Homo sapiens: one gene and its partners. The protein of the gene in region 1 interacts with the protein of each later gene in a pairwise test. Each region holds a gene or a part of one and is shown in the gene's direction. Other genes may lie near its edges.

Region 1 (7,038 bases):
GGGAGGCTTATAATATCTACCACACACATGTTTGAAACGAGTTGTTGAAAAGAGTCAAGGAGTTTCCCCTTTTCTCTGAAATGATTTCTACTTCCTATGTGAATTTGGATGCCTTTAGATCTTATCATCTTGACCCTTCCCACCAACGGGTATACCTTGTCTATCAATTACCCATCCATCAGTCATCTATCTACCATCCACCCACCCATCCACAGAGACTCTCTTTTTGACCAAACTTTAGTCAGGCTCCCCTGAGCCCTCTTCTCAACTGGGCCTCAACCTTGGCCCGTAAGAACTGCAGCTTTCAACACAAACAATTTTGTCTGTGCTCCCACCCTCCAACGGATTTGAAAACACTGTAGCATGGTGTATTAGCCTGTTCTCACCTTGCTGATAAAGACATACCCAAGACTGGGTAATATATAAAGGAAAGAGGTTTAATTGACTCATATAGTTCAGCATGGCTGGGGAGGCCTCAGGAAACATAGAATCACGGTGGAAGGGGAAGCAAACACGTCCTTCTTCACATGGCAGCAGGAGAGAAAAATGAGCAAAAGGGGGAAAAACACCGTATAAAACCAGCAGATTTCATGAGAACTTACTGTCGCGAGAACAACATGAGGGTAGTTCCCCCATGATTAAATTACCTCCCACCTAGTCCCTCTCATGACACATGGGGATTATGGGAATTATAATTCATGATGACATTTGGGTGGGGACACAGCCAAACCATATAACATGGCATCTAGCAGCCTAAGGCCATGTGTCTGGGATCACCCAGCCTCACTTGCATTCCTACCTAGAAAAGCTCAAGGCTGCCCCAAAGAATTTATCTTTTGTTCTAGCCCACACAAATGATAATAGGCCCCTGACTTTCATTTTGTTAGATCGTTTATTAAAAACTTACAATTGTAATTCTTTCTCTGTGCCTTTGAGATATATGTGTATCTCCTACCACCTGGAGTGTCTTCCTCAGTGTCTGTGAGCCATTCCTTTGAAGTGTAATCATCAGGGAGGATAGGGCTCTGTCCTCTAGTCTCTGTAGATGGGTAGGAGCCTAACTTTGACAAGTGCCATTTAGCAGTCACAGATGGCCTAGTCTCATTGGCAAGCCCCCTTGCCTGATTGCTGTAATGTTCTGTGTCCTTGACCCTGCTTGAGCCCCCACACATTCTCATTTCTCCTCCCTACTTCCTTATTCTCCCTTTAAAACACCCAGTCACCTCTACCTGAATTGGAGTTGAGCTCAGTTCTATACTGAAGTCTCTTTCTCTCACTGCAGTTGTACTGGGTAAAATCTGTCTTTACTGCCTTTAACCAGTGTCTAGCTTTTTTTTTTTTTTTTAAACACCATCCAACAAAAAAGTTTGAGTGTCTCCATAGGCCAGGCACTTTTACATATTAGGTATAGAGCAGCAAATAAAACAGACAAAAACTGCATCCTTGAGGAACTTACAGTGTAATGGAATGAATCAGATGAGGTTAAGTACTTAATATATCAGGTATGGATACTGCTATGGAGAAAATAAATCAGAGATGGGGGAGCAGGAGTGGGTTATGGGGAATTGCTATTTCAAGTAGTGTGGTCAGGGAATGCCTCACTGAAAGGAGATGTTGAGCAGAGCCCTAAAGGAGATGGAAGAGTGAGCCACCTGACCAGAGTGCAGCTGGCATTTGTGGGGAGCACAGGGAGGCAGCTGCAGGCCGCAGTGGGGGAATCTCATGCTCATGGCCAGCTTTTCCTCATGACAGCAGCCCCATCCCCCACTCCAGCCACCTGAGGCTGCCCACGAACACTGGTGTTGTTCTTGGGGCCTTAGTGGTATGGTGGCTTGGAACTGAGGACCTCTCAGGGCATCGGAATCCAGCCTAGACCATACCTGAATAGGAGTAAGGAATGAGAGTGTATGTTTTCAATGATGGCTCCCACTGGTTTGTCATAGGAAAGAGGCTGGGGGCAAGCTCACTCCAGCCTGGATTCCCTGCAGTCACCCTGGGAACAAATGGAACTATGATGTATAAAAGATGTGGACAGTGGAAACCACACGGCTCTTTCTCGAGGAATGTCTTAATATCAGGAACCTAGAACAACTTTCTGATTTGAACTGAGCCTAGAGAGAATCCCCAGCTTAAAGGGAACTGGGGTTGGTTAGGGTTTGAGGAGGGGAAATTACTCAGTCATTGACCGAGGCTCCTGCATGCCCAGATGGCTGCTCAACATCTGCTAACCAGAACAACACACACACACACACCCCTGGCAACAGGCTGTCATGAATTTCTCCATGGAGAAGGTGAAGAAACCATTGGGGAGCAGCAGCCAGGGCCTGTCTGCTGGTTTTTAGTTACAGCCTTTCTATACTCATGGGGACAGGGGTATGGAACCAGGATGGGATAGCTGTTTCATTTTTTAAGCTGTTAGCTTGTAACCATTTTAAACTCTCAACAACCAAAACACAAATCTCTCATATAGAGGTTCCTTGGATTGTTTGCTGGTGGGTAGGGAGCATCACAGCAGCTTGAGTGAGCATATGCAGCTGGCATTGGGGAGGTGGCATTTATAGGAGTCTGGTGTTCCTGACTCTTCTCTGTGCCTGTCATGACTTCATGTGGTCTCTTACTTTGCAAGCTTCTCTCACGTGCCCTATTGTATTTGGAAAATGGGGAACTTAAGGTCATTCCTGGGTATTTGATACTCCTCTTTAGCTTTTGTAAGTGGGCCTTCTTCTAATTGGTTGTATATATTCTATATGTTGGTTGTATTACATATAACCAATAATTGATATATAGAAAGCTATTCTAAAATGTAATGTAACCAAGCACTTTTCAAGCTCTTATTAATTATAACCTTGTTTTGTGGTTATTTTCCTTGGATTTTCCAGATAGATGGTCATATCATCTGCTAAATAAGTAAATAAATCAATAAATTTAAAATACATGGTTAGATGAATGAATAGATAAAAAATGATTACTTTGGTCTCTTTATTTCTATTTTTTATTATCAGACTAGATAGAAGACGAGACTGTTTATCTGTTGAGAGATTTTAAAAACAAGATTATTGTATTTCAGCCAAATGTACTTCCCTTGTCCCAGAGAGGATAGGCTATATGATCTCTGAGGTCCTCTCCTTATTAGTCTTTTTACTCTGTTTACTGTAGACCCATTGTACCAGTATGTTCAGTTCCCATAGAAAAACAAAAGAGTGTTTACACACAGTCATTATAGATAAGCCAGCAGTGTGTGTGATTAGGGCCAAACCAGTATTGATGATGGCCTGATACTGACTTTAGAAAGTTTGACTCACCTTGCAGAAATGAAAAGCCAACATAATGCATTAGCGTCTATGAAGACTGTAATAAGGCAAATACATTTGTCCAGAAACAGGCTGATATTGATACACTGATTTTAAGTGCTTTTCCCCAAAAGTACAATAGAGAAAGCCAGGAATATATAGCCTTGGATTACAATAAATGATAATAAAACAGCAGAAGCAAATAACACTTAATAGGGAAGTTTATTTTCCACACTTCATCAGATTGCTACTGCAGAGTACTAGTCTAAAAATTTAATATGAACACTAGCTCTGTAAATACGGGAGAAGTAATCTCAAATCATCCTGAATTAATTATCTTTGTGCTAAGCTGTTTGACATTACTCATTGAAAATAGCTTCTCAAGACAGGCAGTATTTTTCTACACACAAATAATTGTGTTCTCAGGTTGGAAATGTTGCCACATATTAAGCCAAACACATTTTTTTGCTTCTAATTCTTATATTACTATCAGTTTATTTCAGGGAAAGTTAATTTGAGAATTGAAATCATGTAGCAGAATAATTTTGGTTGAAATTGATGTTTCTAAGCCTGATGCATTTTCCATTAGTGTTACATGGTATCATTGGAAGTTTGTACAGTGAACATGCCAAACATTAGGTTTAGTTTTCTGAAGACTCTAGCAAGTATTCTTTTTTTTTAAATCCACATTGTATTAGTTTAACTGGCAGGTAGTAATTAGTTTTATATTGAGTGAGCTAATTTGCCACTACTAGCAGATTTTGAAGTTATTTTAATATAAATACATTGTCCTCTACCCCCAAACTTTATACTGAAATTTTTCTGCTAAATTTTAGGATTATAATTTTGATAATGGCCCAGGATATTGGAATAAAATATAAATGTGAGTTAGCATTAATATCTCAGTTTAGAGAATAACAATAAAAGCAGGAATGTGACCTGCAGCCACATTTCTTCAGTATCGGGGGAAATTCAGCCCCCAATATTTGACGTGGGTCCTTTTCTATTTTCCCTAAGTATTGGCCGGTCTGAGAAATAAAGGGAAATAGTACAAAAGAGAGAAATTTTAGAGCTGGGTGTCTGGGGGAGACATCACATGTTGGCAGGTTCCGTGATGCCCCTCAAGCCGCAAAACCAGCAAGTTTTTATTAGTGATTTTCAAAAGGGGAGGGAGTGTACGAATAGTGTGTGGGTCACAGAGATCACATGCTTCACAAGGTAATAAAATATCACATGGCAAATGGAGGCAGGGTGAGATCACAGGACCGGGGTGAAATTAAAATCGCTAATGAAGTTTTGGGCATGCATTGTCATTGATAACATCTTATCAGGAGACAGGGTTTGAGAGCAGACAACTAGTCTGACCAAAATTTATTAGGCGGGAATTTCCTCGTCTTAATAAGCCTGGGAGCGCTACGGGAGACTGGGGCTTATTTCACCGCTTATCCACAACCGTAAAAGACAGACGTTCCCAAAGTGGCCATTTCAGAGACCTCCCCTTGGGAATGCATTCTCTTTCTCAGGGGTGTTCCTTGCTGAGAAAAAGAATTCAGCGATATTTCTCCTATTTGCTCTTGAAAGAAGAGAAATATGGCTCTGTTCTGCCAAGCCCACAGGCAGCCAGACTTTAAGGTTATCTCCCTTGTTCCCTCAACATTGCTGTTATCCTGTTCTTTTTTCAAGGTACCCAGATTTCATATTGTTTAAACAATTTGTGCAGTTAACACAATCATCACAGGGTCCTGAGGTGACATTCATCCTCAGCTTATGAAGATGACAGGATTAAGCAATTAAAGTAAAGACAGGCATAGGAAATCACAAGAGCATTGATTGGGGAAGTGATAAATGGCCATGAAATCTTCACAATTTATCTTCAGAGATTGCAGTAAAGACAGGTGTAAGAAATTATAAAATTATTAATTTGGGGAACTAATAAATGTCCATGAAATCTTTACAATTTATGTTCTTCTGCCATGGCTTCAGCCGGTCCCTCCGTTCGGGGTCCCTGACTTCCTGCAACACTCCAGGGTCAGCAGTAGAGAGAGGCTAGTTGAGCACTTGCCTCAGGTACAAAATTTAAGGGACACCAAGACACTTAGTAATACAAATAAATATTTTATGCATTTTAGAAAATCAAGATTAATGCAAAAAATCCATAATGAACAAAATATCAAAATTTTAAAGGAAGACAGGATCAGTATTACTGAGTTTTCCTTTTGTGTCAGGCTCCAGTTTGGTTTGTAATAGCACTGTTACTGATCCTATCTATAAAGTTTTAATATTTCGTTCATCATGGATTTTTTACATTAATTTTGATTTCCTAAAAATATTGCATTAATATATTATTTATCTTGGAACACATCTGAATTATTGGAGTAAAGACATTCTGAAAAGTCTCTCCTGCACAATAACAATGAAAGCACTGGCAAAAATATCAAAATAAACCATTTTAGAATGGTGGAAATTAACGAAGGGTTTATAACAATCTGAGGAATATTTATTCAAGAAAAAGGACTGAATCTCAGTAAGAACAGTGAACTTTGTCATTTTTAAACTTACCTTATTCCCATTCCTTCATCCGCAGCTCCATTGTAGCCTTCAAAACTAATAGCCTAAGTCAGGCACAGTGGCTCACACCTGTAATCCTAGCACTTAGAGAGGCTGAGACAGGTGGGTCACCTGAGGTCAGGAGTTTGAGACCAGCCTGGCCAACAAGGTGAAATGCTGTCTCTCCTAAAAGTACAAAAAAAAAAATTAGCCAGGCATGGTGGTGTGTGTATGTAATCTCAGCTACTTGGGAGGCTGAGGCAGGAGAATCGCTTGAACCCGGGAGGTGGAGGTTGCAGTGAGCTGAGATTGCGCCACTGAACTCCAGCCTGAATGACAGAGTAGGACTCCGTCTAAAAAAAAAAACAAACAATAACTAATAGCCTAGAAGCCACTGAAAGGGACAAAACAGGTTTAGAGCCCTCTAAGATCCCCAGTCTCAGAAAATTGTCACTATATGATTGCTCTAGAAGCTTCTTAAAAAACTCCATTCTCAAAGCTTGTTTTGCAGAGCCCTGTGGCATTTTTGGAAAACAATCAGCAGTAATTGTTTAACCTCTCAGCTGCCTGAGGCAGTGACACCAGTTGGGGTTAACAAGAGGTTAACCAAAAAACTTAAAAGGAAAAATTGGAAAAGGAGCTACCTATGGGGGCTTTAAAAACCTTTGATGTAGTCTTTGGAATCTAGAAGTCCCATGTCTGTATGTCCAGGAAATACTTAATAAGGCCTTAATCTGTCATCTCAGACTAACAATGAGGCTTTGCATAAGTAAAGTAGGAAGAGAAGACTAAGAGTTGTAAACTACCTGCTGGAGTGTTAAAAGCATGTACCCCACCCCCCAACACGCGTAATCCCTCAGCAAAGACAGAAATCTCTGTACCGTCATTAGCTGACCACTGAAGCTAGACTTCAGCAGCTGCACATGATAAACAAAGTAGACTTTACATAATTAGTCTGGGAAATAGCAATAGAAACAATAGTAGCAACAAATATAACAACAAACCTTTATGCAGAGTGGAATCTTATTTCTAGGTTGCCATATTTTTTTAAATCCAGTTTTCAACATAAAATTTCCACACACACAAGCAGTAGCATATGGGCCATAACAGGAAAAACAAAAGTATCCCTGAGAAAGTCCAGATACTGGACTTAGTAGACAAACATTTTAAATTAGCTATTATAAATGTGTTCGAAGAGCTG
Region 2 (3,778 bases), on another chromosome or scaffold:
GGCTAGTCTCGAACTCCCGACCTCAGGTGATCCGCCCGCCTCGGCCTCCCAAAGTGCTGGGATTACAGGCGTGAGCCACCATGCCCGGCCACCCCATAGACCTTTCTATAAGACTGCTCACAATAAAGCAACTGGCTTCCCCAGAGCAAGTAACCCAAACAAAGACAGAAGGCATGGTTTTTAAAATAACCTAATTTTGGAAGATACTACTTTTGACATATTCTATTGGCCAAACAGACCAACTCTGGTACAAATTGGGAAGAGACTACACAGAGTAGGAATACCAAGAGGGTGGGGCTCATCCTGGGGCTGTCTTGGAAGATGACTGCTATACTCTCTCGAAAGCTAAGGCTTTATAGAAATGAAGGCTTAACACTTCTAAAAAGAAGTTTACCTAAAAATTTGAGTTTCTTGGTTGAAAATGATAAGATCCTTAAAACCATATTTGACTCAGGTGCTGTTTCTTCCTGTTAGATATTACTGCAATGTCTGTGACTGTGTGGTGAAGGACTCCATCAACTTTCTGGATCACATTAATGGAAAGAAACGTAAGGCTTGGAGGTAGCTTGTGACTAGGGCTGGAATTGGGTTTTGGAGGTGGGGTGGAATGGAAGGGTAGCTTTTTTTTTCTTCTTTTTACTCATCAAAAGATGGCTGGAGTAAGAAGGGTAGTTTCTACTGGGCTCTTTTTTGATGCCCCTATTAGAACTCTCCAGTTGTTTCAGCACAGGCCGTCTTTTACTTCATTATGTAATATTTCTGGAGGCCGTGAGGTAAGAGGCCTCATTCTGGAGGCCATGAGGCTTTCAACAGCACCCAAACCATGTGCTGCTCCTGGACCCAGCTGGCCAAGGGAGTTTCTTTTAGCCATAATTATTTTTGCTGTGTGTTTTATGAGATGTCAGAGAAGTCAGGAAAATAATTTTTGAGGGGCTGAGGATGTTGTAATGAACTTGCCTTCTTCACTGTTGACCCTATGCAGATCAGAGAAACCTGGGCATGTCTATGCGTGTGGAACGTTCCACCCTGGATCAGGTGAAGAAACGTTTTGAGGTCAACAAGAAGAAGATGGAAGAGAAGCAGAAGGATTATGATTTTGAGGAAAGGATGAAGGAGCTCAGAGAAGAGGTAAGGGTCTCCTATCCTTCCCCTCTCCCCCAGATTTGAGTTTTATGTTATGAATCATGGGAGACCCTGTCCTCATCCCACTCCTACTCCCACCCCCAGAGTTGTATCTCCTGAGTTCTGTATATTAGCGGAAACATTTGTTGCCTTTGTTTAGGATTCTCATGATCTGAAGGAAATGGCTCTGAAACTACTTTTTTCTCCTAGACTCTCTGGGCCTTATTTTTTTTTTTGTAATTTAAAAAAAAATTTTTTTTTTTTTTGGTCATACAGATATTTCTCAACTTCTGATGGGGTTACCTACTGATAAACCTATCATCAAGTTAAAAATATCATAAGTCAAAAATACATAATACACCTAACCTACTGTAGTTTAGCCTAGCCTACCTTAATGTGCTCAGAACACATTAGCCTACAATTGACCCAAATTATCTAACACAAAGCCTATTCTATAATAAAGTATTCATCTCATTAATTTATTGAATACTGTACTGAATGTGAAAAACAATGGTTGTATGGATACTTGAAGTACAGTTTCAAATGCATGTCAGTTTTTCACCATTATAAAATTGAAAAATCTTGTCAGCATCATAAGTTGAGGACTGTCTCATCTGTATTCTTTGATTTAATTTTTTTAAAAGACTAAACTTTTTTTAGAGGAGTTTAGGTTTGCAACAAAATTGAGAGGGAGTTATAAAGATTTCCCATATACCCACTGTCCCCCACAACATGCATAGCCTCCCCCATAATTTTTTTTTTTTTTTAACTGCAAGAGGAATTAACTAAATGTACCTAGTCCTAAAGAGACCCATGAAATCAGGCTGACTGGGTCAAAATTCTGTTTCTTCCACTTACTGGCTGTGAATCTTGGGCAAGTTATATAACCTCTTTGTGCCTCAATATCCCCATATTAGAGATCTTAATATACATGAAGTACTCAGAGCAATTTCTGGCATGTACTGCATGCCCCAGAATGTTAGTTGTTGTTACAAACAACATTTGGCTGAGGAGTCTAAACTGATTCTGAGTGATTTTTCCCTCCAGGAGGAAAAGGCCAAAGCGTACAAGAAAGAGAAACAGAAGGAGAAGAAAAGGAGGGCTGAGGAGGACTTGACATTTGAGGAGGACGATGAGATGGCAGCTGTGATGGGCTTCTCTGGCTTTGGTTCCACCAAGAAGAGTTACTGAGGCTTTCTGTGCTTGGCCTGACTTTGGCCTATGCTGGACCTAACTTTGCGTGTGTGTGTGTGTAGTAGGGGGTCATTTCTTTTTGGGTAATGGGAAAGTTCTTAAGAGTGTCAATGGGGAGGGATAGAGGGTGGGGGCTCATGGTTTCCCTCTACTTTGGGAGAGGGCACAGATTGCAGAGGTAATGCTGTGGCATATTGCTTCTGCCTCAGTGTATCACTGGAGTCACAGGACCCTGCCCACCTGAGTTCCCAATAAAGAAAAACCTCCCCTTCTGAGGCTGCTTTCCCAAAACTCCCCCTGCATCTTTATCTCTTCATCTATCCCACCTCTTGTCTGAACATCCCACCTTTATCCTGTGTTCTGCCTTTGTTTTAATTTTAACTCATGTTCATCCTGCAACAGAAGCATTCTCTAGGTCCCAGTTTCCAGTTGATTGCATATCCTTGATCAGCCCTTTTTCCCATCCTGCCCTATGGTTCTCTAGCCACCTGTGCATGCATGTGTATTTCTGCCTGGTTCTATGGTGTGTGGATGTGTGTGCATGAATCTGTCATATAGAGGGGGTCCGAGCTGGAATCCTAGAGCATTGCTGCCCTGGGGCCTGATGTTCTTGGCTTCCTCAGAGCATGTAACAGGAAATTAAATGGGATGAGTGTTTGGTGTGGTTTGTGTCTGATGAGTTTTTTAACATTCAGGTGTAGATTGTTTCAGCTTCTCATGTTTCATTTTCCTGAAGATTTATGTTTTTGTCTACCTTGTGAGCAGGCTTTTGGAAGAACCTGTTTGATGCAAAAAAGAAAATGAAAAACAAAACAAAAAATCCCCAAAACCTTATTATGGGAGCCCGTCGGTCTTAGAAGCTGTTTGACATGTATAATAAATGGCATTGACTGGGCCTGTTTTACATTTGGTGAGAACATTCCATAATCTTCCCTGTGAATATTTGTTTTTCCTTCTCATGCTGAGGATTTCCATATAGAGTATTTTATTCTTCCATTTTAAATCTTATTTTTGCCTAGGTTTTTTTTTAGCATGAGTTATGTTTTCGTCTGATAAGGGATCTATGTCCAGAGAAGTCTGAACCAAAACGATTCCTATCATTTCAGACTCCTTTGATCTTTTGTTTTTGGAACAGCAGAGCTCAGGATTGAACATAATGTTTTTTCTTTTTTTTTTTTCTTTTTTTTGAGACAGTCTTGCTCTATCGCCCAGTCTGGAGTGCAGTGGCGTAATCTTGGCTCACTGCAACCTCCGCCTCCTGGCTTCAAGTGGCTAATATTGTATTTTTAGTAGAGATGGGGTTTCACCATGTTGGCTAGGCTGGTCTCAAACCCCTGACCTCAGGTGATCCACCTGCCTCGGCCTCCCAAAGTGCTGGGATTACAGGCGTGAGCCACTGCACCTGGCCCTTAGTGTTTTTCTTACTGTCTGCTAGACACAGAATTACTTAATTTTGGCACTG
Region 3 (7,167 bases), on another chromosome or scaffold:
CCAAAAGCTGAACAACAAGAGTTTGATGAAAGCAGGCACACACATTTACCAAGGGAATATATGCCTTCTATATGACTTCTCAAAACTGATGGATTTAACTATACATTATACAGCATTATTCCTAATTATATAATGAAAAACAGTACTATCTTATTTTTACCATTTATTATGTTAATAGTAGGTCTAAATAATTTTAATCTTGACTGGTTTATCAGTGGTCCATTTTATAAGCTATAGTTAATCATTTATTTCCTAATAATTTTTATAATATTCCTCAAAATGAATGTTAACATATTTATTTGAATGGAAGAATAAAGTCAGACATGTTTCTAACAGAAAGTAGGTCTGATTTGGCTGATTGGTTTGAAATGAAAACTGGCTTTGCCAATTCCACAAATGGCAGTTGTTTTCTATACAGTGAATGAGCTGAATCTGCATTTCAGTTTAACAAAAAGTTCTTGAAGACATGTAATAATTAAAGAATTTTACCAAAAAATATTGTGTAGGCAAAGAAGTATGGAAATCAATATCTGATTAACAAAGTGTCTCTGAGTGTAAAGGTCACAGATAATTAATAATCATGTTTAATAAAACCAAAACTGAGACTCTAATAACTAAATCCTTTTGGAAGTTCAGTGGTTTCTAATCCTTTGCTTTTAACAAAATTAAAAGAAGACTCTATTTGATAGTATTAATAGATCACTCTGTGATTGTTGGCATATAATTTAGAAGTTCAAAGACTCAAAGAATATCATTGTAACAAATCTCTTCCTTTCCCAATTGTGGAAACAAGGTTTCTCAATACTCATGTCTATAAAAATAAAAAACAGGTAAAGGATTGATGTTGCACCTTATCTCCTTCTACCATTAGGTAATATTAATCCATGAATACCTGAACTAATTGGGGAGAAACACCATATTTCTCATTAACAGATGCATTTTCAATAAAAATTGTACTTTTTAGGTTTCACAAGTCATAAAAATGTTAAAAATATTTAGGAAAATTTAGTATTTAGTAATATTTAGTAAAAAAAAAAAGTTTAGTAAGTTATATACTAATGATTACAGGAAGTGAATGGAATTCAAAGTATAAGGAGAAAGAGAACCATATAAAATTTCTGTTGAAGAGCTTGTTCATATATTTTTAAGTGGATGATGGTAGGCATTAGATTTTTAGGGTACTTGGAATCCACCGGATACTTTTTTTTAATGTGAGACAGTCTCACTCTGTAGCCCAGGCTAGAGTGCAGTGGCACGATCTCAGCTCACTGCAACCTCCGCCTCCCGAGTTCAAGTGATTCTCCTGCCTCAGCCTCCCGAGTAGCTAGGACTACAGGTACGCACCACCATGCCCGGCTAATTTTTGTATTTTTAGTAGAGACAGGGTTTCACCATCTTGGCCAGGCTGGTCTCGAACTCCTGGCCTCGGGATCCGCCTGTCTCAGCCTCCCAAAGTGCTGGGATTACAAGCATGAGCCACTGTGCCTGCCCTGCCAGATACATTAAGAATGATGTAGACCAAGTGTGGTGGCTCATGCCTGTAATCTCAGCACTTTGGGAGGCCAAGGCGGGCGGATCACGAGGTCAGGAGATCGAGACCATCCTGGCTAACACCATGAAACCCCGTTTCTACTAAAAATTAGCCAGGCATGGTGGCGCATACCTGTAGTCCCAGCTACTCGGGAGGCTGAGGCAGGAGAATTGCTTGAACCTGGAAGGGGAAGTTGCAGTGAGCTGAGATTTCGCCACTGCAGCACTCCAGCCTGGTTGACAGAGCGAGACTCCGTCTCAGAAAAAAAGAATGATGTAAGTCTTAGTTTAAGATGTCAAAATTTGAAATTGTATCCTCTATAAGTATTTAAATTAATGAAGGAAAATTTAGGTATCAACTTAAAAATGAACAAGAGGTACATAGCTCTTCAAAATTCTTTTATGGGTTCATTCTAAAAAATGTCTGAAGATCACCAGCCTATATGTTGAGTGGAAGGGATAGGAGAGAAACTGCTAGCAATGGTCTTCAATACTGCCCTCCAAAATATCCTCACCAATTCTCCTGAGAACCTGAAATTACCTTCCATTAGGATCATTACTTCAGATTCAGACACTGTTTCCCAGAGCTCTTGTTAAATGTATAATTGCAGAGGTGACTGGCCATCAGATTACGATCCGTAAGGAATGTGAGAAAAGACAGATATATATATACAGAGAGAGCTATGGAAAAAGGGTGGTTGGAGAGGGACAAACTCAGGTACAGCCTGAGTTCTATTCCCTGCGGTATTTCTAACCCTCAATTCATATTATAAGAGGAGCTACTTAATCTTCTCTCTGTATCTATAAGGTACTTTTTCTTTTTCTTTTTTTTTTTCTTTTTTTGAGACGGAGTCACACTGTTGCCCGCGCTGGACTGCAATGGTGCGATCTTGGCTCACTGCAACCTCCGCCTCCCGGGTTCAAGCAATTCTCCTGCCTCAACCTCCGGAGTAGCTGGGATTACAGGCGCCCGCCACCACGCCCAGCTAATTTTTTTGTATTTTTAGTAGAGAGGGGGGGTTTCACTATGTTGACCAGGCTGGTCTCGAACTCCTGACCTCGTGATCCGCCCGCCTCAGCCTCCCAAAGTGCTGGGATTACAGGCGTTTAAGCCACGGCGCCCGGCCTATAAGTTATTTTCTATGGGAAATAACTTGTCAAACTTCCACCAAAAAGGAATGGAAAGAGGGCAGCATAGTGGCCAGGCAGTTTATTTCCATACTAGGAGATACAGAAGGGATTAATTCTAACCGTAGGAATTCTAACCATCAAATGTCACTCACTGGCCTACCTAAACTGAACTCTGGTCCCAGCCAGAACAAGTCAGGAAGAGGGGATGTCTAAGACCGAAAGGGGGGCTTTCTAGTTAAGCTCTTCAGGCAGGAGAGGAAAAGGATGCCCGCATCCCCAAAGACACCTTTAGCTACCACAAGCCCCAAACCCCGTACTTTGTAACTGTGTCTAGTTTACGTCCTTTAAAAATTATTCTTATTAAGTTAAATTGTTTTCGGGGCGGGGAAGATACAAAAGAAACCAGTTAAAGTCTGAAAGGATAGAGAGGGGAAAGTTTCTCACCTCATTCTTCCAGCCACCCAGTTCCTCTCCTAAAAGGCAATCTTTACCAGTTCCTTCTCTAACGCCCCTCCTTTTTAATTTGATTTTTTACCGAAAGCTCGCTCCCTTTTAATTTTCCCTCAGGTTTCTGAAAATTTCCCAATCGCAGCCCCTCCCAGCAGGGAAATAGTAAAGGGGCTTGGTTTTTATGTTCAACCCAAAGCAAGCCTACAAAAGGGAGTAGTCGGTTTCGAGCCTGACGGTGGAGCTGACGCGGGAATGAGAGAGAACCTGAGAAGACCGCCAGGGCGCCCTCCCTGCGGAGGCGAGTCCCTCACCGCCCCTCTACATCGTCCTTTTCAATAAGGAGCTCTTAATACCTGCAACTGCTTCCTTCAAGGGGTGGCTGGAAGATCAGTAGGCAAGGCCTGCGGACTGCGCACCTTAAAGCGCTTCGGGACCGTAAGACAGTGAGTGCTGAGCGCGCGGCCGGGAAGAAGCCTGGAGGCTCTGAGCTCGGAGGACAGAGACCGAAGCCCCAGGGCCTGCGTCCCTCACAACCTGCGCCTCCTGTCCTCCCGCGCTACTCCCGAAGCGCACCTTCTCGCCCGCAGGCCGCAGAAGTGATGACGCAAAGCCCTCGGGGCCTCCGCCACCTCCTCACGCTTCTGCTGGACCGAATCCTTGGAATGGACAGGTAGCGGTTCCCGATTGCTATAGCGACGACCCGGCTCCGAGCCGCGCCCAGGCCCTGACCCGGGCGTCGTGACGTCAGCACGCCTTCCCTGGGCGCTCAGCCTCGCTGGCCATGCGTCACCCCGGCCTTGGTGGGGGCGGGGCTCCGAAGAGCTCGGTTCAGATCCCGGCCGCCTGGGCTCCAGGAGCCCCGGAACCAGGATAAGTTGGATGGCTGCCGCGGCGAAGCGGGGGGCGGGGTGGACCGTGCCCGGTATTTTCTATACGGGTTCCGGGGCCCGGTAGAGGCGCGCCAAGAGGAAAGGAAAGTGCGGCGGCCCTGGAACCTGGATATCGCGCGAGGCAAGCTGCGCGCGGGCGGGCGGGCTATGGCGCAGGCGGGTTGTGGGGCCGGCGCTGGTGGCGGGGCCCGGTGCATGGCGGTCTGTCGGCGGAGTCGCCCTCGGGGGCTGTCAGGTTGGTGGCTGCGGGAGGAGTGGGCCAACCATGCCCAGGGCGGGAGGCCGGGCGGGCGCAGGACCCCGGGAAGGTCCCGAGCCCGGCGTGCCCACCTCCCTCCGGCCCTAGCAGGGCGGCCTGGCCGCTGGACCGCGGCCGGGCCCCCTCCCCCACCCAGGGTCCCTGCCCCTCTTTTCCGCCTTGCGGCTCCTCCCCCGTGACTCCCAAACCTCACCCCGTGACGGCGCCCGCCTCCACCCTTGTGACCCCACACCCCACCCACTGACCCCAAGACCTCACCAGGTAACCGTTGGTTATTATTCATTGGCTGCTAACCCAGGAATTTCCCCAGCACTTCTCAGAGACCCACCAACCAGTGACTCCCTCAGTTTTAATCCGGTGACTCACATGACCCTGAGATCCCCACACTCCTCCTTAGTGACCCCCAAACCTGGGTAACCCTCCTGGCCCAGTAACCCCCCCGATTCTACCTTGTGTTCCCCACAAACTCGGTGACTCCCCTCAAAACTCTGCTGGCGACTCCTAAGCCCTACTCCAATAGTTTTCCACGCACTCACCTTGTACACAACCCTCAGTATCTTTATCCTGTAGCCGTATGACCCTCGTTCCACGTCTGCCTTTATCCTAAAATCACCCCCACTGGCATCTCTCTCTGCGATCCCAGCCCTTCAGTGTCAATCAGCACATGACTTACAAGCGTCCAGCACCTTTCTGGTGCTAAGGAGGATATAGAGATTAATATGAAGTAGTAATAATTGGAGGCATCAGAGAATTCTGGATCAATCCAGAATCCAGTCAATCCAGTGTGTGGTCCCAGCTCTGTCACTGCTGTGCTTTAGGGACCTGTGAGAAGTCCCCTCCTCAGTCTGGACCTCAGTTTCTCATCATGACTGTGATGAGGTTGGGTTAGATGATCTTTGAGTTTCCTTCCGTCTGTGAAATTGTGAAATTATGCAGTTCTCAGTCAAGATAATAATTTTTTGCAATCATTTTTGTACCCCACCCTGGAAATTTCCTCTTGTAACCTCATCCCAGGATCTGCTTGCATCATGAACCTTACTCCCTCATTCCCGGATCACCCTCTTCACTCTTCATAGTGCATACCCATTTCCCTTGATCAGGCCCCATCAGTTAACATGTTTGCAAAGCAGTATAGCAGAGTGCTTCATTTGGGGGCATTGAGTTCATAACAAACCTAGGTTCCAGACTGATTCTGGCCCTTCAGCTATGGGACTTTTGGTATATTATTTAGCCTGTCTTAACTTCAGTCTCCACCTCTGCGAAGGGAGAAAATAGTAGTGCCTGACATAACATATGTAAAGCACCGGGCACCATGCCTGGCTCATGGGAACCCTTAGCATAAGCTGTTGTTAGAAATGAGAAGCTGCTATGGATCTTACTCTGTCCTGAGTGCTAGGGATTTAACAGACTGAACATGTGGCCCATACCTTGCATTATGTTGCTACTACTGACATCTTGGAATCCCTATCTTCTCATCTCTGCTGTAGCCTCACTTCTCTGGTTCTTACCCTGATTTTGCCTCAATAACGATTGGCTTGCTGAATACCTACTGTGTGCCAAGCTCTGGATATATAAGTTAAATTTACGTCTCAACAGCCCCAAGAGTTAATTATTATTATATCCACCATTTTCCCTTCCCATATTTTTGTTTGGTTGGTTGGTTGGTTTCAGAGAAATGAACCAGAAACTCTCACAGCTAAGTAGCAGAGCTAAGATTTGAACCCACAGTTTAAAAAAACAAAACAAAACCCTACTCCATTGCCTGTCTTTCCCCCAGACTTACTCAACCTCAGCTCCTTATTCCTTATTTTCTAGTAATTCCTAAATACAACATCAGCTCGTTCCTTGATCCCTAAGGTTTCTGTTCTTGAGCTCCTAGCCTCAAGAGATCCTCCCACCTTAGCCTCTCAAGTAGTTGAGATTATAGGCGTGAGCCACCAAGACTGGCCCTGACCCCCAAGGTTTCTATTACCGTTTGCCATGTAACTTGGTGACTTTCTCATCCTGCTGTTCATGACTTTTGATCTCATATCCCCTGAAGCCCCTGCACCTTGTAGGGGAGGGAAAATATCTTCTTAGGTTCATGGCTTAGGCCCCTATAACAACAGATTTAATAAGAGAAGATTATATACATTTATTTAATGTAAGTTTTATGTGACAGGAGCCTTCATAAGGAAATGAAGACCTAAAGAAATGATTAAACTTGTATATTTTTATACTAGATCTGATGAAGAGTGGATAGTTGTGGAAAAATACAAAAAGGGTAATATCAAATAGTAATAAACTGGGAGAAACTTAGCAAGGCCTGTTTGTTCAGACTCTTCTCTGTGTCCCTGTGTCTTCACAGATAAGGGTGCTTCTTTCCTCTGAGTATAGGGAGGGCACCTCTTTATGAGGAGGGTATTATGACCTGCTTCAGGGGAAAGTCAGAAAAATCCTTCCTAGGTTTTGTGATCTGCTTCAGGGGAGAAGAGCCTCAGAGAAAGTGAGAGTGACCTTCCTACTGCCATTTTCTCAAGTTGCCATATTTTGGAGTAGTGTCTTGAACCCAGTCAACTTCTCTCTTCATCCTTTGCCCAAATATCTCTTGTTCTATGAATCTTTGACGCTTCCAGCCCTTTCCCTGTGAACTCACTCACCATACAGTGTCTCCCACCTCACTGGCACTTTACCCCAAATCCTTTCATCTTGTTAAGTCCCTTAGCCCCAGGAATCCACAAGTCTGTATGCTCTAAAACCATCTAGCCCAGTTGCCTTTCATCCTATTTTTTAGTCTCAGTGTTCTACTCCCACCACCCCACCTTCTGCCATCCTCAGCCACATTCTGTGACCTGAAACCTTCATATAATTTGTCCTTCATTTAGTGACCTCTTGATGTGACTAGCTTCAATGGAATCGGCTCCTTCC
Region 4 (7,038 bases), on another chromosome or scaffold:
TAGGAAAATAATAGATGATTGTTTAGGAAGACAGGCATACAAGTGGATCCATTCTACACAGTGCTTGTAGAAATAAAGTCTATTTGGGGTTTAAGCTGAAGAAAACTGCTCACTGAGACTGCCTGTTGCTATAGGTATTATACCCTTTTTGCAGTTGTTCTAATAATGTATTTGTGTATAACATTCCATATGTATTTAGAAGCATATCAGAACTACTCCTGAATAAGTGCAGAGAGTAAGCAAAACTAAGTGCAGAGAGTAAGCAGAACTCTATTGGAATGGTAGTTCCACATGTACATTAAGTATACAGACCATCAGAAATCTTTCAATATCTGCTGGCAATGTAGATCTATTACTTTGTGAACTTTGACTTTGAAATGTGGTTAGTCTTTTTGCGGGGCAAAGGACCTCTTTAATACATAAGCTGTGAAGAGAGATTTTTTTTTCTTGTAAACAGAAGCACATGGAGTCTTTCCTCTCCAGAAATCTTTGAGAAAAGCACATGCCTTAAGGAAGAGTATGTTTGCTGTGAATCACTGGAGGAAAACCACCCCGTTGAGGGAGTGACATATTCACATCAAAACTCAGTTTTGTAACTGGAAGAATTTTTTCTCAAATTCTGCTTTAGATTCTTTAAAGGAATGGGGTTATTTTATCTAATGGTGTAGTATGTTGAATATCCCTTTCAATGTGTGGTGTTTTTAAGGAGAATTTTCATATTCTAGTGGTTTTTACTTCTAGTTATGAAGTATTCTTTTTTCTTTTTGAATGTAGATTTCTCCTTCTCTTTGATTACCATCTACGATGGACCTGGAATTAATTATTAGATTTTGATTGAGCTGAACATTTTGATTTAAGCTATGTATAGATATATTAAGCTATATATATCTATTAAAAGCTATATATATAGCTTAAATTTAAATTCTAATTTAAGCTATATATGTGTGTGTATATATATATGTATATATACATACACTATTTAATTCATTTATTCTTCTCCTAAATTCCCTCTATGTTCTTCTCATACTCCTTCTCCCCATGAAAATACAGGAGGCATGAAGATCTTCCAACTGTTAGTGTATCTGAATCAGCAGTTTTAATCAGCCTAGCCAGCCTTTCAGGACGTGGGCTCAAGAGCTGAGGGAAGTTAAGGGTCACTGCCAAGGTGAAAAGCTAAAGTTACATTCTTGTGTTGTGGCTCCCTTCCCTACCCCCAACTTTTCCTCCAGGGGAGTGTCCTCGGACACCTTAGACTGTGGTGCGATGAGAAGAAAGATCTGTGGCTGTAGACTCTTCCTAGGTCTCCATCTGCCATCAAAATGAATATGTACACACATTCTTTTAAATGCTTTTAAAAGGAAAAAGAAATCGAAAACATGGTTAGGAATAAGAGAGAAGGATCAAATGGGAAAGTAGGATCTTCTTTCCTGTTTATTTCTTAGGGGGTGGGGGCGGAGCAAACAAGATAACTATAGGGGGAGAAGTTAGGAGATTTTGGAAAACTGCCTTTATTTTATTTTTTCCTCTTGCCCTGCGCCTCCTAGCATCTTTATGCTTGCCTCTGGGCTTTTCTGCTCCGGCTTGACTGGGTCCCGCAAAGTCCACTTCCTTTTTTTTTAATTTTTTTTTCCCCCAAAGAGAAGCACCTGCAAGTGTAATGGGTGTTACGGAACACTCGTCCAGGCCAGGATGAGAAACCCTCTGACTGTTGGCTAGGAAGAAAAGAAAAGCGGGAAATACTTAAAAACCATTTATGAAGTGTACCTGTGAATTGAAAAACAGGGTCTCATTTTAAGACAGCTTGATTTGAGGGTGAGGGGCTTGACTCAGTTGCATTTTAAAAAACAAAACCCAACCAAATAAAAAGGAATACGCATACAGGCACTAAGGTCTCTTCCAAACCCCACCCCAGGGCTGGCTCTTGGGGCTGGGATGCTGCTGGGGACCGGTCTTCCCAGCTCTTGGCCTGGCCGGTTTGCACGCAGTGCAGTTGCTGTGTGTGTGTTGCGGAGGGTTGCGGCAGCTGGCCCAGGACTGGGACCCTGGCCACAGCGGGTTCAAAGTAGGGGCAAAGATAGGGGGCAGCGGCTCCTTGCGGCCGCAATGGACTGCCGTCTCCTTGCACCAGGGGGTCGGAGCTGCAGCTGAGCCCAGCTTCTCGCCGCCTGCTGGGGACGGCTCTTTCCTTGGTCACTGTCAGGAAGCAGCTCACTAGGCAGCTCAGGAACCGCCCAGAGACAGCCACATCCCTTGCCTTTCCCTTGCCCAGCTCTTGGGCCACCACTCCCTCTCTGCTCTTCCTGAGCTTCACTACCCTCTCCTTCCCAAGGCAGGAGTCCCGAGGTGAGTTGACACCTTCTGCAAAAATCATGCAAACAAAAAATAGGATGCCAATATTGCATGGGACATACTTTCTCTAGAAAGCCTTCTTTGTTTATTTGATGGTCCCACTTAACTGGACATCCTGTTATTTTATCTGGCAACCATAGGCCTAGGCCTTCCTCACCCAGCCCCAGTACCCACGCAGGGCACCCCTTGGCGGTGGGGTCGCCTGTGCTCATCTCCTAGTTCTTTCTCTGCAGAGCCCGAGCTGCCTGGGACTGGCGTCAGGGAGGTGCTGGGGTCCATCCTGTGGATCTGGGACGGTTTGGCAGGAAAAACGAGAGTGTGTTCCACGTCTAGGAACCAGAGTTCTACTGCCATCTGGGAAAGAACCTCTCTCCACCTCCAAATCACTCCTTGGTGTTATAAATCTGGAGGATAGCCGTGCTCTCGACTTACACAACCAACTTTTCTTTTTCCCTGATGGATGAACTCCCGGGTTTAAAAGATTACAGTAATCACAGGAGGACAGTGTGAATCGAATCTGATAGCAATAACTTTCGGAGAAGGTCAGGCTCAAGTGAAATGTTACCAAGCAACAGGCATTTTGTTTGCAAAATACAATCAAAGAGCATTGATGAGAAATTCTTTGCTGCAGCCAGTCAGCACTTTCTGCTAACAGCTTTACAGAGAGAAAAGGAATAAATCTTCATAAATCAAAGTCCCTGGAGGACTCGGAGCCCTTTTCTGGAAATGTTGCACTTCTTCCTGACGGGAAGGAGGACTAAGCCCAGCAAAAAACCATGGGCCTGCCTGCCCTGCCTGCCCGCCTCCTCTTTCTTTCTCTTCCTTTCTTCCTCGCCTCTTGCTTTTTTCCTTTCTTCCCGCCTTTAAACCTGTTGCAGCCCCTTAGCCATTAGCTGCTCAGGTCCTTGGACCTCCTTGTCTAGTCCTGTGTGGCTCTGATGGCTTGTGCACGGGTGCTCATGGCAGAGGTGGAGGATGCAGTGATAGGACAGCTGGTCCTCACAGGTCCACCGCCTTGTGATTGTGTCAGTTACGTCCCACATCGCCTTAGTGAGTCATCCTCTTGCCTGAGCAATGCATACTACTGTTCTCAGAAGGGAAACTAAAATAACTAGGTATGGGGTTTTTTTGCATTTTATTGCATAAACAGCTATAAAAGGCACAATCAAGTACCAAGTAACAATAATAATAATGAAAAACTTAAGAGTCGGCACATCAATTCTTTACAAAATCTCCAATCTCTTGATTACAACAACTAGGCAGACATAAATTTTACAGAGCTGGGATTAGTGTTCCACGTTTTTCCCACTGATTATTACTTTGTTTAGTTCAGTATATATCTCTAGCACCCATAATCTTTATATGTAAGCATTTAAAACAATATTTCCTCCTGTGAAGACACCATGGTCTGCCCAGCTGCTATCCTTGGAATTATTTGCTGTATTTCACTGTGAAATATAACCAACTGCAGCTTACTTGGAATTTTGCAAAAGATTAGTTAGTAAACTGTATGCCTCTCAGTGGTCAAGAGGCAATGCTTTGATCATCTCTGTATGATCTTACCCAGCACAGTACATGAGAGCATAGTAAGGCATTTAGGGGCATTTGTTAAATAGATGGATGAGTTAGACAGGTGCATTTTGGAAGGTACCAAATAAACATGTAGATTTGTAGGTAATTTCCCCTCTGCTTCTTGGAAGGTATTCCCTTCTGAGTCAAGAAAGAGATCAAAACTAATTTTTTACAAAATATGTGAGGTCCACAGTTGCAAACCATACTTCCTTCAGCCCAGTCCTGTCTATAGCAATATTCCCCCAAAATATAGTGTCAAGGAACCACTCTGATTCCTTCATACGTTATTAATTCAGTGTTGTTAATGATTTTTTAAAAAGTAAAGCATGGCTAGTTTTTTTTTTTTTTTTAACTTTTCACAACCCTCCCCAACCCGGCAATCCACCCCAGGAAGAAAAGGAAAGTTTTTAGATCGAGATCATTCCCTGGTGTTCTTTAGATTTTCAACTATTCATTTTTTTAAAATAATTCATCACTTCTAGTGTGAGATGAAGGTAAGAGAAAATGTGAAGCGTTTGTCTACGATTAGAATTCTGATTAGGCAATGGTCTCCTGTAAAAGTCTCATCCTGCCTGGGCTCCCTCCCTTGCCATTGTTGTAAGATTTATGTGCTTTGAAAACTACCCATCAAGGACCTGTTATTTACAGGTGTGTTCCCCACAGCTCAAGTGAACAGATGAGGATATGACAATCTATGTTTCAAAATGCGTGACATGATTTCAAAAGGGATGGGGGAGTCCAGTGACTTTTGAGCTAGGAAATATTCCTCTCTGCTCGAGTTTTTCTGTGTTTTCATTCTGTATGTAAGAACTATTTTGTTTTCGTAGATATAATTGGATAGAATGGATATAACCTATGACATCTAAGTCAGAAAGATTTTTCACATTTTTTTTTTTTTATTTAGACAGTCTAATTCTGTCGCCGCAGCTGGAGTGCAGTGGTGAGATCTGCAGCTCACTGCAAGCTCTGCCTCCCGGGTTCACGCCATTCTCCTGCCTCAGCCTCCTGAGTAGCTGGGACTACAGGCACCTGCCACCATGCTCGGCTATTTTTTTTTGTATTTTTAGTAGAGATGAGGTTTCACCATGTTAGCCAGATGGTCTTGATCTCCTGACCTCGTGATCCACCTGCCTCGGCCTCCCAAAGTGCTGGGATTACAGGTGTGAGCCACCGCGCCCAGCCAGATTTTTCACTTTTATGCATCGTGAGCAGAATGTTTGTTTCTCATATGTGGTAGACTTTCTCAAAGTATTTGAAATAATACATTTTTTTTTTACTAAATTGCATTTTTATGTGAAAAACTCCCCTAAAGAAAGTTACATTTTCAAACTGTAATTTTAGATTGAAAGCACTTTTGTGAGTGTTTATTTTCTCTCTTTAAAGTCTTGTAGCAAAAAAAGAAAAAAAAGTATTGTAGTCATCTTATGGCATATATATTTTGAAGTCGGTAGCATTGTTATCTGTAGAAAAACTTTTCTTTTTAATTGAATATCTACTTCTTTTAAAAACCTCTTTACCCTAGTGCACAGTTTATTTCAGGGATAGCTATAAGTGTTTCTACCCCATGAAATATGAAATGGAAGAGAGAATATTAAGATTTTAAAAATATGTACATGTTTAGCAATAGAAACAGCATATTGTATCACTTTCAGTAATATTTGTCATATTCGATAAAATTGATTTCTTCCCTGTTTAATAGCTTTGACTTTCTATACCCATCTACCGGGGTAAAAATATTATCAGTTGATATACACTCTTAATGTTCTAGGAATTAGGGTTTCAGTTTCAAGAAGAAAGAAGGTAAAATGTTTCAGGAGTATTTCCTATTTTATTTTGTTAGTTGGCAGTTTCACATTTCTATGTCTAGAAAGGCCTTTATGTTTTAAACCAACTAGAATGATTTGTAAAGTTTATTTAAGAACAAATCTGGAGATGTAAAGAAGTACCTGTTATTAAATTACACTTTATCACTGGGCTCAAAACTCACCCTCTATAATTACCTGTGAAAGTCTGTATTTATAATAGAATAATTTACAATATATTTAGTTTAGGTGCAATAATACAACCAGTACTAGACACCATAGCGCCACAAAATTGCAGGAACTATATATCCTGCCCTTCAGAAATTATTGTTTGGTGAGGAGTTATTCTTGGTGCAAAGTTAGAGGCTAGTCTTCCTTTGCCTAGTTTTGAAACTCCAACAGCCTTACATGTTGATGGGGATTTGGCTCACCCAGCACTACTTAGCAGGACCTTGTGTGCGGCTCAGGTGCATAAGCCTCACAGGTGTGCTCTGCTTGTTCTTTCATCATCTTTGTCTTTCCTTTGAACACAGTGTAAGCAGTGCTGAGCTCAGCTGGTTGGTTGGTTTACGCTGAATTTGTAGATTTGATTCCTGTGACATTGTGTTAGCTTTTCTCATATTTTGGCTATAGCCAGACGGCACAGAGACCTGCGGAGAGAGCATGGAGGATTCGGTGTAATCTATCACCACTCCTTGACAAGTAACCAGAAGTGCATGATGCACTAGCATGTCCCAGTAGCAGGGGCAAAGGGTAACACAACAAAATGAGAAAGTGACTTTCACAGTCTGAGAGTTCACAATTGCTGAACAAGCTGGCACTGACATAAGATTCCACTACCGTCTGTTCCGCAGAACTTAGGAAAATAGGTACAAGAGTGGAATTTTATATTGTCAGACTTGTAATCCTGGTATCAAGTATTCAGTTGATTGGGACAGTATATCTGTTGCTACCTTGAAAAAAAAAAGCCTCCATTTTTGTAATGGTAGAGTCATTATGTTAGTGAGAACCTCATTCCCTAATTCCCCTTTCAGTTAGCCTTCTGCTGTTTGATCCACTTTTTTTCTGGAGACTGAAGTGTACTGTGGAAGAGTCAATTTGGTTGACAGACCTGAGAAAACACTTCCTAATATGTTTTCAGTGTTTGAAACTTATCTAAAGTGGGGGCAGGGGATGTACCTTTTAAAACACAAAGCTATTTGGTTCATATATTTCTTTTAAAAATAGTTGAGCTGGCCGGGCGTGGTGGCTGACTCCTGTAATCCCAGCACTTTGGGAGGCTGAGGCGGGTGGATCATGAGGTCAGGAGTTCGAG

The links.
Region 2: the proteins of MTUS2 (region 1) and ZMAT2 interact in binary tests that used the Homo sapiens proteins (3 or more experiments, as listed by UniProt).
Region 3: the proteins of MTUS2 (region 1) and ZNF76 interact in binary tests that used the Homo sapiens proteins (3 or more experiments, as listed by UniProt).
Region 4: the proteins of MTUS2 (region 1) and DMRT3 interact in binary tests that used the Homo sapiens proteins (3 or more experiments, as listed by UniProt).

What each region holds. Positions count from the first base shown.
Region 1 is NC_000013.11:28,823,339-28,830,376, forward strand, and holds part of MTUS2 (microtubule-associated tumor suppressor candidate 2), read left to right. Parts: intron 1-7,038. UniProt on the Homo sapiens protein: Binds microtubules. Together with MAPRE1 may target the microtubule depolymerase KIF2C to the plus-end of microtubules. May regulate the dynamics of microtubules at their growing distal tip.
Region 2 is NC_000005.10:140,703,444-140,707,221, forward strand, and holds the end of ZMAT2 (zinc finger matrin-type protein 2), read left to right. Parts: intron 1-474; coding exon 475-548; intron 549-982; coding exon 983-1,128; intron 1,129-2,169; coding exon 2,170-2,313; 3' UTR 2,314-3,243; downstream 3,244-3,778. UniProt on the Homo sapiens protein: Involved in pre-mRNA splicing as a component of the spliceosome.
Region 3 is NC_000006.12:35,255,606-35,262,772, forward strand, and holds the start of ZNF76 (zinc finger protein 76), read left to right. Parts: upstream 1-4,129; 5' UTR 4,130-4,236; intron 4,237-7,167. UniProt on the Homo sapiens protein: May be involved in transcriptional regulation.
Region 4 is NC_000009.12:979,654-986,691, forward strand, and holds part of DMRT3 (doublesex- and mab-3-related transcription factor 3), read left to right. Parts: intron 1-7,038. UniProt on the Homo sapiens protein: Probable transcription factor that plays a role in configuring the spinal circuits controlling stride in vertebrates.